3 separate regions of the Homo sapiens genome follow, and all the other regions are reported to be linked to region 1. The links are microRNA targets in miRTarBase. Many come from high-throughput screens and were not tested one by one. Region 1 holds a microRNA gene; each other region holds the end of a gene's coding sequence. Distances are from middle to middle.

What was found. The annotated mature microRNA hsa-miR-4778-3p reads UCUUCUUCCUUUGCAGAGUUGA and lies in region 1 at 1,422-1,443, shown strand. An mRNA with a match to its seed (bases 2 to 7 or 8) in the 3' UTR can be bound and repressed. Matches are read on the target gene's strand: a 7mer-m8 pairs with bases 2 to 8, a 7mer-A1 pairs with bases 2 to 7 and ends in A, and an 8mer does both.
Region 2: the mRNA of SDC1 is a reported target of hsa-miR-4778-3p. Seed matches in the 3' UTR shown: 7mer-A1 at 1,170-1,176.
Region 3: the mRNA of WDR70 is a reported target of hsa-miR-4778-3p. The part of its 3' UTR that is shown has no 7-base or 8-base seed match.

Annotation. Positions count from the first base shown.
Region 1 is chr2:66,355,340-66,359,699 of GRCh38, reverse strand. MIR4778 (microRNA 4778) reads left to right here and starts at 1,372; the gene lies at 1,372-1,451.
Region 2 is chr2:20,199,292-20,203,291 of GRCh38, reverse strand. It overlaps SDC1 (syndecan 1), which reads left to right. Exons shown (of 5, transcript NM_002997.5): 4 at 70-205; 5 at 357-2,495. The coding sequence ends at 526. Among named protein-coding and RNA genes, the nearest start is that of SDC1, 24 kb to the left of the region's middle. RefSeq lists an enhancer at 1,820-2,320.
Region 3 is chr5:37,752,242-37,756,241 of GRCh38, forward strand. It overlaps WDR70 (WD repeat domain 70), which reads left to right. Exons shown (of 18, transcript NM_018034.4): 18 at 245-1,194. The coding sequence ends at 332. Among named protein-coding and RNA genes, the nearest start is that of GDNF-AS1, 86 kb to the right of the region's middle.

The DNA.
Region 1 (4,360 bases):
CTTTGGTAAAATTTTCTGATACAGTGTCAAACATATCAGTAACGGCTCACTAATGGCATTGCATTCAAACCTCAGAAACAGTTTTTGTCTTGTGTGTGACCTATATGCCACTGCACTGCTGAGCATCCAATTCTCCATGAATATCAATGATTTCCTCTGGTGGTGACCCTGATGAACTTCCCAGGCAAGTTTCCAAACTTTCATGGCTCATAGGTGGCTCCTGTGTCCTCACAGGTGGTGGCCTTGTGTCCCTGGAGTCTTCGAAGCAAACTGCTTCTTTGTTTCTTTGGATATAAAAGCTTATCAAATGGCTTTTTCAATATCATCCTCTTTTCAAAAGTGGATGAAGGGTTTATAGTCTTCAAAATATGATAACACTCAGAAGTGCATTTTTCTCAGTATTGTTTTGAAAGCATAAGCACTTATAAACAATGATTTTTAACCTTGGATGGGGGGACCAATAAGTTATTGTTAGGTGTCTATTAATCTACTTGTTGTGCAAGCATTCTCTAGAGTCTGAGTAAATAATATTTTAAAAGCTTTACTGAGATTATTGGCCATTTTTGTCAGTATGTTTTCTTAAGTCATACTAAAAGTTCAACTCATATCACTAAGGGGGTATGAAATTATTTTTTTCTTGGGGCGGGGAAGTATGAGATATAAAATTCTCAACTTCCAAGTGATATGATTTGGCTCTGTGTCCCCACCCAAATCTCATGTTGAATTGTAACCCCCAGTGTTGGGGGAGGGACCCGGTAAGAGGTGATTGGATTATGGGGGTAGATTTTTCCCATGCTGTTCTTGTGATAGTGAGTTATCATGAGATCTGGTTGTTTAAGAGTGTGTAGCACTTCCCTCTTTGCTCTCTCTCTCCTGCTGCCATGTAAAGATGTGCTTGCTTCCCATTTGCCCTGCCTCCATGATTGTAAGTTTCCTGAGGCCTCCCCTGCCATGTCTTCTATACAACCTGTGGAGCTGTGAGTCAATTAAATCCCTCTTTATAAACTACCCATACTCAGGTAGTTCTTTATAGCAGTGTGAGAACAGACTAATACACCAAGTAATAAAACCTCAACTTAAAGTAGCTGAAGTCAAAAGGAGAAGTTGTTGGCTCAGATTGTTCAGAGGTATGTTGAGCTCCATTTGCCTTTGTTCAGCTTCAGGCAAGCTTTTTCCATAAGGTGGTGAGAGCATCCTGGTGCTTGCCACATGAATACATGATCCTGAAGCTTTGTGAACTCAAGAGAGACTTTATCCCAACAATCAAACTCCAAAGCAGTGTTTGGATTGGTTATCCCTACTTCATGTATTTCTCTCTGGACTAATCACAGGCATTAAGACATATAAGGTAAACTGACTGGTCAGTGTAAATCACATGTCCAATTCTGTAAAGGAAGAAGAGGTAAGAAGAAGTGAAGCCCTCTTCTTCCTTTGCAGAGTTGAATATGTGGCTTATAGTCCTTCTAGAGTCAACATGGAGAGAGAGAGGAGACACTTTCCAAACAAAAAAAGGATGTGATGAATAGACAAGCAATTCTTGTCCACTGAAAAAAGGGTTCTTATATTTGCTTCATATTTATAAGTCTTAGGGATATTATTCTAGAATTACATTATTATTTTCTTGATGTTTGCACTACAGTTCTCCTCTAGGTATTAGAGGTCAGCTAAGCACAAATGAGATGAATGGGAATACTCTGGGAGGCACTGTTTCTGCAGCCAATCCCAAAGAGGTTTGTATGCCTGTGTGTGTTTGGGTGCGAGAAGAAGAAGAATGAAGTGTCAGAAGGAGAGCTGTCAAAATGAAATATCAAAATTCCCTTAAAATCCAAATCTCAATTCTGTTCTGTAAGTTTAAAACAAAACAAAATGAACTTGCACACATACACACACCACTAGGACCACCACTACAATCACCACTACCAAACAGATGCAAGCTATAAGGTTTTAATTCCAAAAAGACCCAGAATATTTCTATTCCTTATTTGTCTTTAATTATTGTGTTCTTTTTGTATGGGCACCCTAGATTGGGAGATTCAGCCCTAGGATTAGAGCTCGGAGTAGCATGGATCTCATTCCCAGGTCTCCATTTCTTGGCTAGCTTCTTTTCCCTGGACAATCCATTCCTTCACAGGAGTCAGTAATTCTGCAACTAATCTAATGCCCATTTACTTTCCTTATCTGACTCTGTCTGTCAGTCTTTTCACTTTCATCTCTTCTGGCATTACTCCTCATTTCCTTAATTTTCCCTACATTTTCCCATTATGTGAAATAAAAACACTTCAAATCCTTATTTCACTTTTCTCAGCTATAGGTATTACAGACAACTGGCATACCATGAAGATAAGCTGACTCTTACAAGAGTAATACAATGATGATGAAAATGAACATTGAGTCCTTATTATTTCCTAGACACTCTATCTATTATTATCTATTTAATCCTCACGCCAACCTAATGGGATGGAGTAGTAGATCCATGTTAGTTTTATTTGAGAGGTTTCAGCCTTTGAATGGCTGAGTTCAGCCTTTGAACCCATTTCTTACATTTGAGAAATTTCTAATAATATGAATTTTGCTTGAATTTCCCAGTATGGAAGTCAAAAAAATTCTTGTCCCAGGCTACCCTGCAGCTAAGGTATGAACACATCACCTATACTCAGCCAAACAGAGGTACCTGCCTCAGACTTTAAATTTGCATTGAGAGATGCAAAAATCAGGAAAGCAGAGAATTTATTTCTCCTTTAATGGTTGCAGAGGTGGCTTCAACATCAGCTTCCAGGGTTTACAGAGGCTGTGGTGGTGACATTAAATGTTTAAGTTCAGTAGCAATAACAGATAAGCCTCAGTATTCAGTGTCAGCAACAGTCAGGTGGAGTGATAGAGTCTCCACCTCACTCACATTGTGGCATCATTTTGGCTGTGGCTCAGGCTGTTACCTGCACCCCTTCTTTATGCCATTTCTGAGTCTGGTAGTTCAGCCTTCCCAATGTTTTCATAAACATAAAATACAGTGTTGTGGAGTTGAGCCACAAAGAAGCCTTTTCTACGTGCTTTCTCATACCCTTGCAATAAATTCCCTACTGTCTAATCAGCCATAGTTAGTTTATATCACTTGAAACAAAGAAATTTGATGGGAACAGAGATCATATTTTAAATTTCCTTCTATAGATTTGTAAACTCAGGCTTTTTTTTATTATTGTTATTTTTGGACAGAGTTTGGCTCTTGTCACCCAGGCTGGAGTGCAGTGGTGTGATCTCGGCTCACTGCAACCTCCGCCTCCTGGGTTCAAGCAATTCTCCTGCCTCAGCCTCCTGAGTAGCTGGGGTTACAGGCATGCACCACCATACCAGGCTAATTTTTTGTATTTTTAGTAGAGATGGGGTTTTGCCATGTTGGGCAGGCTGGTCTTGAACTCCTGACCTCAGGTGATCCACTCACCTTGGCCTCCCAAAGTGCTGGGATTACAGGCATGAGCCACCGTGCCCAGCCAATCCAGGCTTAAAGAAACAAATCTATTGCACAAGGTCAAACACAGAGTCTGGGGTCTGGCTGTTTGGAGAGCCAAGATTTGTCTCCCACCCTCATGCAAGCAGGGAAGAAAGTACTACCAATAAATGAGATTGGTCTGAAAGTAACTTAGAAAAATTAGGCATCCTTGATTAATGTCTCAGTTCTGGCTCTAACTAGCTTGATGTGGCTTGTCTCTGTGTCCCCACCCAAATCTCATATTGTAGTTCCATAATTTCCACGTGTTGTGGGAGGGACCCAGTGGAAGATGATTGAATCATGGGGGCAGGTCTTTCCCATGTTGTTCTCGTGATAGTGAATAGGTCTCACGAGATCTGATGATTTTAAAAACCAGAATTTCTCTGCATAAGCTCTCTCTTTGCCTGCTGCCATCCACGTAAGATGTGACTTGCACCTCCTTGCCTTCTGCCACGATTGTGAGGCCTCCCCAGCCGTGGGGGCTGTAAGTCCAATAAACCTCTTTCTTTTGTGAATTGGTTATGTCTTTATCAGCAATGTGAAAACAGACTAATACACTGGCCCTATGCTTTGCATAAGTCATAGTTTATTGGGATAATCTTTCTTTGTCTAGAAAGTAAAAAGTTTGGTCAGCATTGGTGCTTTCTAACTCTTAAGGATGGGGGCATATAGCCATACAAAAACATTTGAAAGGTACTGAACTTCTGTTTAGCAAAATTCACATTCAAATGTGTTATGTCCAACTTCACCCAAGCCCATCCTGGGATGTCAATGAACCCTAGGATGAGAACCTTGAATTAGATGACCTCTTGTTTTGGAGTTTTCCAAGTAAAACTTTGTGTGATTTCATTGTCTGGGTGAATTTGCTATAATTAG
Region 2 (4,000 bases), 46 Mb from region 1:
TTGTAGTGGAGCTGGTTGCTGCTGCTGGCGGTGACCTGGCCAACCCAATCTGCCCCTGCCCTCCCACAGGACTTCACCTTTGAAACCTCGGGGGAGAATACGGCTGTAGTGGCCGTGGAGCCTGACCGCCGGAACCAGTCCCCAGTGGATCAGGGGGCCACGGGGGCCTCACAGGGCCTCCTGGACAGGAAAGAGGTGCTGGGAGGTGAGTTTTCTTTCAGGGGGGTAGTTTGGGGTGAATTGCTGCTGTGGGGTCAGGGTGGGGCTGACCACAGCCAAGGCCACTGCTTTGGGGAGGGTCTGCAGCAGAGCCCAAGGAGCCGCTGAGCTGAGCTGGCCCCGTCTACCTGCCCTAGGGGTCATTGCCGGAGGCCTCGTGGGGCTCATCTTTGCTGTGTGCCTGGTGGGTTTCATGCTGTACCGCATGAAGAAGAAGGACGAAGGCAGCTACTCCTTGGAGGAGCCGAAACAAGCCAACGGCGGGGCCTACCAGAAGCCCACCAAACAGGAGGAATTCTATGCCTGACGCGGGAGCCATGCGCCCCCTCCGCCCTGCCACTCACTAGGCCCCCACTTGCCTCTTCCTTGAAGAACTGCAGGCCCTGGCCTCCCCTGCCACCAGGCCACCTCCCCAGCATTCCAGCCCCTCTGGTCGCTCCTGCCCACGGAGTCGTGGGGTGTGCTGGGAGCTCCACTCTGCTTCTCTGACTTCTGCCTGGAGACTTAGGGCACCAGGGGTTTCTCGCATAGGACCTTTCCACCACAGCCAGCACCTGGCATCGCACCATTCTGACTCGGTTTCTCCAAACTGAAGCAGCCTCTCCCCAGGTCCAGCTCTGGAGGGGAGGGGGATCCGACTGCTTTGGACCTAAATGGCCTCATGTGGCTGGAAGATCCTGCGGGTGGGGCTTGGGGCTCACACACCTGTAGCACTTACTGGTAGGACCAAGCATCTTGGGGGGGTGGCCGCTGAGTGGCAGGGGACAGGAGTCCACTTTGTTTCGTGGGGAGGTCTAATCTAGATATCGACTTGTTTTTGCACATGTTTCCTCTAGTTCTTTGTTCATAGCCCAGTAGACCTTGTTACTTCTGAGGTAAGTTAAGTAAGTTGATTCGGTATCCCCCCATCTTGCTTCCCTAATCTATGGTCGGGAGACAGCATCAGGGTTAAGAAGACTTTTTTTTTTTTTTTTTAAACTAGGAGAACCAAATCTGGAAGCCAAAATGTAGGCTTAGTTTGTGTGTTGTCTCTTGAGTTTGTCGCTCATGTGTGCAACAGGGTATGGACTATCTGTCTGGTGGCCCCGTTTCTGGTGGTCTGTTGGCAGGCTGGCCAGTCCAGGCTGCCGTGGGGCCGCCGCCTCTTTCAAGCAGTCGTGCCTGTGTCCATGCGCTCAGGGCCATGCTGAGGCCTGGGCCGCTGCCACGTTGGAGAAGCCCGTGTGAGAAGTGAATGCTGGGACTCAGCCTTCAGACAGAGAGGACTGTAGGGAGGGCGGCAGGGGCCTGGAGATCCTCCTGCAGACCACGCCCGTCCTGCCTGTGGCGCCGTCTCCAGGGGCTGCTTCCTCCTGGAAATTGACGAGGGGTGTCTTGGGCAGAGCTGGCTCTGAGCGCCTCCATCCAAGGCCAGGTTCTCCGTTAGCTCCTGTGGCCCCACCCTGGGCCCTGGGCTGGAATCAGGAATATTTTCCAAAGAGTGATAGTCTTTTGCTTTTGGCAAAACTCTACTTAATCCAATGGGTTTTTCCCTGTACAGTAGATTTTCCAAATGTAATAAACTTTAATATAAAGTAGTCCTGTGAATGCCACTGCCTTCGCTTCTTGCCTCTGTGCTGTGTGTGACGTGACCGGACTTTTCTGCAAACACCAACATGTTGGGAAACTTGGCTCGAATCTCTGTGCCTTCGTCTTTCCCATGGGGAGGGATTCTGGTTCCAGGGTCCCTCTGTGTATTTGCTTTTTTGTTTTGGCTGAAATTCTCCTGGAGGTCGGTAGGTTCAGCCAAGGTTTTATAAGGCTGATGTCAATTTCTGTGTTGCCAAGCTCCAAGCCCCATCTTCTAAATGGCAAAGGAAGGTGGATGGCCCCAGCACAGCTTGACCTGAGGCTGTGGTCACAGCGGAGGTGTGGAGCCGAGGCCTACCCCGCAGACACCTTGGACATCCTCCTCCCACCCGGCTGCAGAGGCCAGAGGCCCCCAGCCCAGGGCTCCTGCACTTACTTGCTTATTTGACAACGTTTCAGCGACTCCGTTGGCCACTCCGAGAGGTGGGCCAGTCTGTGGATCAGAGATGCACCACCAAGCCAAGGGAACCTGTGTCCGGTATTCGATACTGCGACTTTCTGCCTGGAGTGTATGACTGCACATGACTCGGGGGTGGGGAAAGGGGTCGGCTGACCATGCTCATCTGCTGGTCCGTGGGACGGTGCCCAAGCCAGAGGCTGGGTTCATTTGTGTAACGACAATAAACGGTACTTGTCATTTCGGGCAACAGCTGCTGTGGTGGTGGTTGAGTCTCTTCTTGGCCTGGCGATGTCCAGCCGTGTCACCTTCTAGGGGTGGGAGCCTGGTTCTGGGCAATGCTCTGGCTTGGTACAGAACAGCAGAATTCATGCTGGTCCCTCCTGTCGTGGAAGACAGAGTCCATCTCTGCCCTCCTCCCCCAAACCCCTGTGCAGGCATTCAGCATCTCGCCTTCCTCCTCCCGGGGCTCTTGGCCCTCCTGCCCAGCACTCCTTGTTCCTTAAGGCTCCACTGGATCATTCCCTTCCTCAAGGACATGATGGGCTCCCTACTGATTCTCAAAGCTTGCTATTTATTCTTTGCTCACTGTGATTTCTGTACACTCACTAGCAACAGTCTTTAAGTGCCAGAGGTCTAAAAAAACCATGTGCCTAGTAGGGAAAAATGACAGTGAAAGACCTGGAGGTTGAGGCAGCACACTGCACCGCAGGGGTCCTTAGTGTCCTAGAGCATCTATTATAGCTGGCTTTCCAGTCTTGTCCAGGCTGCTGGCCCACTCTGTCCCTGGTGCAGGTCACCCCCTGACCCTAGACCCCAGACCCCAGACCCCAGGAATGGCCTGGGCCCTGCAGAGCAGGAGGGACCGTTTCTTCCCCGCCCCTGCACCTGCTGATGGAGCAGGGACTGCTGGCTCCAGGTGGCTTTGCAGGATGGAGAATTCTATTCTTCCTGACACATTGTGTTCCAAAGGGTTTGGAGGCCGAGATAAAGTTTTCCAGGTCATTTATTCATTCAACAAACACTGAAAATACCAGTGCCTATCTCCTGCCAGTTCTTGGACTGGACAGGGAGGGCCCACTTGTAGAATTGGCCATCAGATAGTAATACTTTTATTAATAACATATTAATAACCCTCCACATGGGACCTGCAAGGTTCCAAGACCCCAGCTCCCTGGGCTGCCTGTCCCCATATATCCAAATCAAACTGCACCCCGTCCCACCTCTTGGCCCTGCTTGTTCTTAATGCCCTCTCGCAACTCTGTGCTTCCATTCTGAGTCCCCCACCCCAGGGCACCCCCAGGGCAGGGCTGTGCCATCAAACAGACTGCCGCATGTTTGAGACTAACAGTAAAAAAGGTGGAGGTGTTTAAATGTCATCCTTGGGCACCCCTTCCTCAAGCAGTGACTGCCCACCTCCCCTTGGGCCTCAGCCTGCTGTCCTGTGTCGCAAAGCCTAATCCCCATCTCTCCACTTTCCCACTTGCCCTGCCTGGGAGGGGAGCAGTGGGCACTATTTCCTTTTTCCGTTCCCTTTACATCATGCCCACAGTCTGGCCTGGGTGTGGGGGAGAGTGTGTGTGTACATTGCATGGGCGACTCACTGGATCTTCTACTAAGACCTCTCCCAAGTTATTTTCTAAACGCACGAGCCATCTTCTCTCAGATCGTGCTGCACTCTCAATGTGCAGCCAGCTTCTGTTTTAAATAGCATTTTTTTGCCTCGCTTGCCTCAGGGGTTTTGCTTGGGATATG
Region 3 (4,000 bases), not on the chromosome of region 1:
AGAACAGTGTGTATGTACAGTCTGCCACAGAGGGTAAATCTTTAAAAGAATCTTTTGCTCTTTTCCTGAACATAATTAAATTTCCATTATCTTTTTCTTTGCCAGAAGTTTAATGATTTATATTTAATAATTGAGTTGTAATTTATTCCCCACATTTGCTCCCACTTGATGAAGGAAGCAAAATCTAATGTAACAAATACTTTCTGACTAAATTTTTCCTTCTCTTCTTTAACTTTTCTTTTAGGACTCAGCCCAAAACCATGTTTGCCCAAGTTGAATCTGATGATGAGGAAGCAAAGAATGAGCCAGAATGGAAAAAACGTAAAATTTGAAGAATCTCATTTGAGAGCTGTTTGCATGAGTGGGAGGGGTATGGGACAGGTTTGGGTTTTTTTTTTATGCTCATGAAATTAAAAATTCATTTTTATGAACAGGTTTTGTCCTTTGCATTATTGAACTGGTCAAAAGTTTGGTGGCTAGGCTTCACTAAAATTGTGCTTAAATTTTCTTACCTGCAACTATTAAACTGATTACAGATAAACAAGAAACAGATTCTTAGTCTATTACCAAGTACTTTAGGTATTTGGAAACTTTATTCAACAATTATTGGTCTTGTCCAGATTCTCATAACCTTAGAGAGGAAAATGTACATTAAGATGTGCATCTGTCTCTAGCAATTCTAGGAACATAATATAGAAATAGAGATCAAAAAGTTTAATGTTTCTGTATAATTTCACAACAGTTGTTTACATGACTGTAATTAATTAGGCTGAGTTCAAACCAAATACATTGCCATACTGGGAAAGAGCATTATCTCATTATCCTTCAATAGCAGAATACAGTGGTTAAGAGTTAGGAGTGGGCTTTGAAGTCAGACTCATGTGGATTCAAGTCCTGGCTTTGCTCTTTACTTCTGGGTCATCTTAAGAGAGTTATTTAACTTTTCTTTTCTAGCCTCAGATGATGAAATAGTACGTACTTTGCAGGTTCGTCAGAAGAATTAAATGGGACATGCCTCACAGAGCATTTAGTACAGTACCTGGAACACAGTAAATGTATACCAAATATTTGCTATTTTAAAATAGGGCTAATATTTACTTTGCTTGGTTTTTATCAGTATTAAATTAGAAAGGTATAGAATTGCTTTGTAAATGTAAAGACTAAACAGAAGACATTAAAAATTATTCTAAAAAATCATTGTGCTTTAGTGACTAAAAAACTAAAACAAAAGTTGGCAGTTTGTCCAAAATAATAATGCATCAATAGAATAAATTCTGTGCATTGGTTTCACACAGACATGGGGTAGTTTTTGCATGTTAAATAGTCCCCTCTAGACAGGTTTTTTAGGACTTGCCTTCTCCCCTCCTGCTCTCATTTGTTCTAGTGATTTCAATAATTATAAAAATGCATGATGATCCCAAAAGTATATCAGAAAACTCCTGGTTTTACAGGCTTCACGTACCCACACCTGCTTCCCAAAAAATATTTTTAAAGAATCACTTGTACTCACACAGCTCCCTTGTCTCTACAGATTCTGAGGTGGCAGTGGGCATTCTTTTATAGATAAATCCTTAAAACTTCATTCTCATACACTTTCTCAGTCCTTCCTTCCTACCCCCATCCTCATCCTATTCCCCTTCTCTTGTGACTCAGACTATAGGTAATAGGTAAAAAGAAAAGAACTAACATTTGCTGAGTGTCTGCTACATAATGAGTACTATCCCAAGCCCTTTACTTGTGTTAGCTGATTTAATCCTCACAAAAACCCTATGAGTAGGTAAAATTGCTAAACCCATTTTCCAGATGAGGCAAAAGAGATTCAACATGTCAAATCATATGTCTGAGGTCACAGCCAGAGAGGGCTGCATGACAGCACCCAAGATCTCTAAACATCAGTAATTAACAAATAGCCCCAAGTTTTCTGTTCCTTTTGAAAAACACTTCATTCAGAATCAATTACAGACCAATATTTTGTTCCAGCTGCTTAGAATGTATAAATTTATTACTTCTTGAATAAAATTTACTGAAAGCATCTCACATTTTCCCCCATCTTAACATAAACATTGCACCATATGGAAGTATTCGTCTTGTACAGCCAAAAGTTGCAGTGGAGGGTTGGAGGAGGAATAAAAACTTGATCATAGTGGTCTTGGCGGAGTCAGCTATGATGTAAGGGAAGAGAAAGGCAAATTTCGCACGAAGATGATTTTCTCATCGTTACCCACAACACAAGTGGGCCTTTTCATATTTAAGAGGATCTGTCTCACTGTAGAGAGTTTTATAAAGAATTATTTTTTCCACAGAAGATTGGCAACATGCACATACGGATTTCAATTTCAAATTTGGTAAGGGAGGAGTTTAGAACCAGGAATGGACAAATAGTGTGTGTTCATTTGACCTGCAGTCCTGTCACCAGAGTGGGCATCAACAGTTATTTATCTTACAGTCCCTCACACTCCCCATGTCCCTCAGGCCTCGTTATCTTCCCCCATGCAACCTTGTATTTGGTCGCCTTCATTTCTAGTTGCTCGAAGGAACTGGCAGTCATCCTAATGACTCCTCCCTCACCCCCCACTCCCACCCATTTAATTATTTGCCAGTTTCTTCCCATGCTGTCTTCTGAATCTCTCATATTTGCCCTTCCTCTCTTTCCCTACCACCCCTCTAGAATTTAGACCCTCTTTTAGCCTTCACCAGCACCACTCAGGAGCCTCCTGCCCAAATGATCTTCCTGTTTTTCATTAGGTCCTCATCTAACCCATCTTTCATTCTGTCATCAGAGTTGGCCTTCTAAAGTCAAAATCTGTCATTTCATTCTTTTGCCTAGAGCCTTCCAGAAGCTCTATGTCAGTACTCATGCGTTTATGTGGCAATTGAGGACATCCAGGATTCGGCCTTTCCCTGTGTTTCATGCTGTAACTCCTGCTGATCTGGCACATGCTTCTGAGGCTCAGCCACTACTATGTTCTTTGGCACCTGAATGGCTTTGCACATGTTGTCCCCTCTTCCACCCTTGTCTGCTTGGAAAATTCCTATTTGATTTTGGAAACAGGAATCAATTTCACCTTCCCAGGCAGACAGTCTCCGCTTCGATAGTTGCTTACATATCTCTCAATTATAGCCTCCTTTTATGTTGCGTTATGATTGTATACACATGAATGGCTTGTGGGCCAGTGGTGTGTGCCCATGTGTGTACATGCATGTTTCCTCACTAGGGTGTAGATTGTAAAAACTAAAGAGCATTGGGTTCAGTAAATATTCAGTAAGTTTGTTTAATAAATTAGAGGAGCCATGTTCTATTCACATTTGTATTCCTAGACCCTAGCCCTGAGAAAGGGTTTAAAAAGAGGCGTATTCAATCTTTGGCAGAGGGAGGGAATGAAACAGGCAAGGATGAAGAATGGATGGGAAAAGAATGAGGTGTGAGAAGTGCTTCTGCCTCGCAGATGGAAAGGAGGATCGTTAGTACTGAAGGTTGGTCTGCATCCAGGCTGCTTTACCTCTTCTCTGTGGGGATTTATTCACAGCTAACTGTGATGGCTCAAGGAGGAGGCAGGATTATCTGTGCTATTCCTGGCAGGGCACAGCAAGTTCTAAGCCACCATGACATCCTCAGGTACTTGCCTCCTGTCCTGTTGGACTTGATACTGGGAAGGTCATGTGACCCTGACTTACCAAAGATCTGAGAGATGTCTAGCATGGGGATTCTTAACCTAGGCGGGATGTCTGTGAACTCCCTCAAATTTTATGCAGCATGCTTTGCTTATACTCGTACATTTTTCTGTGGAGAGAATCCATAAATTAGACTCAATTCGAGGATACTGGGTACAGCTAGTAATTCCTTCATCTCCCAGGATAACTGTCTAAAATTGGGCCATTCATACTTGAAAACCAGGACATAACTCTCACACATTCACACACACACAGTACCAAATAAAACCAACCCAACTAAAACCTTTCATACACTGTCTACCATTTAATCTTAGGCAATCAGTCATAT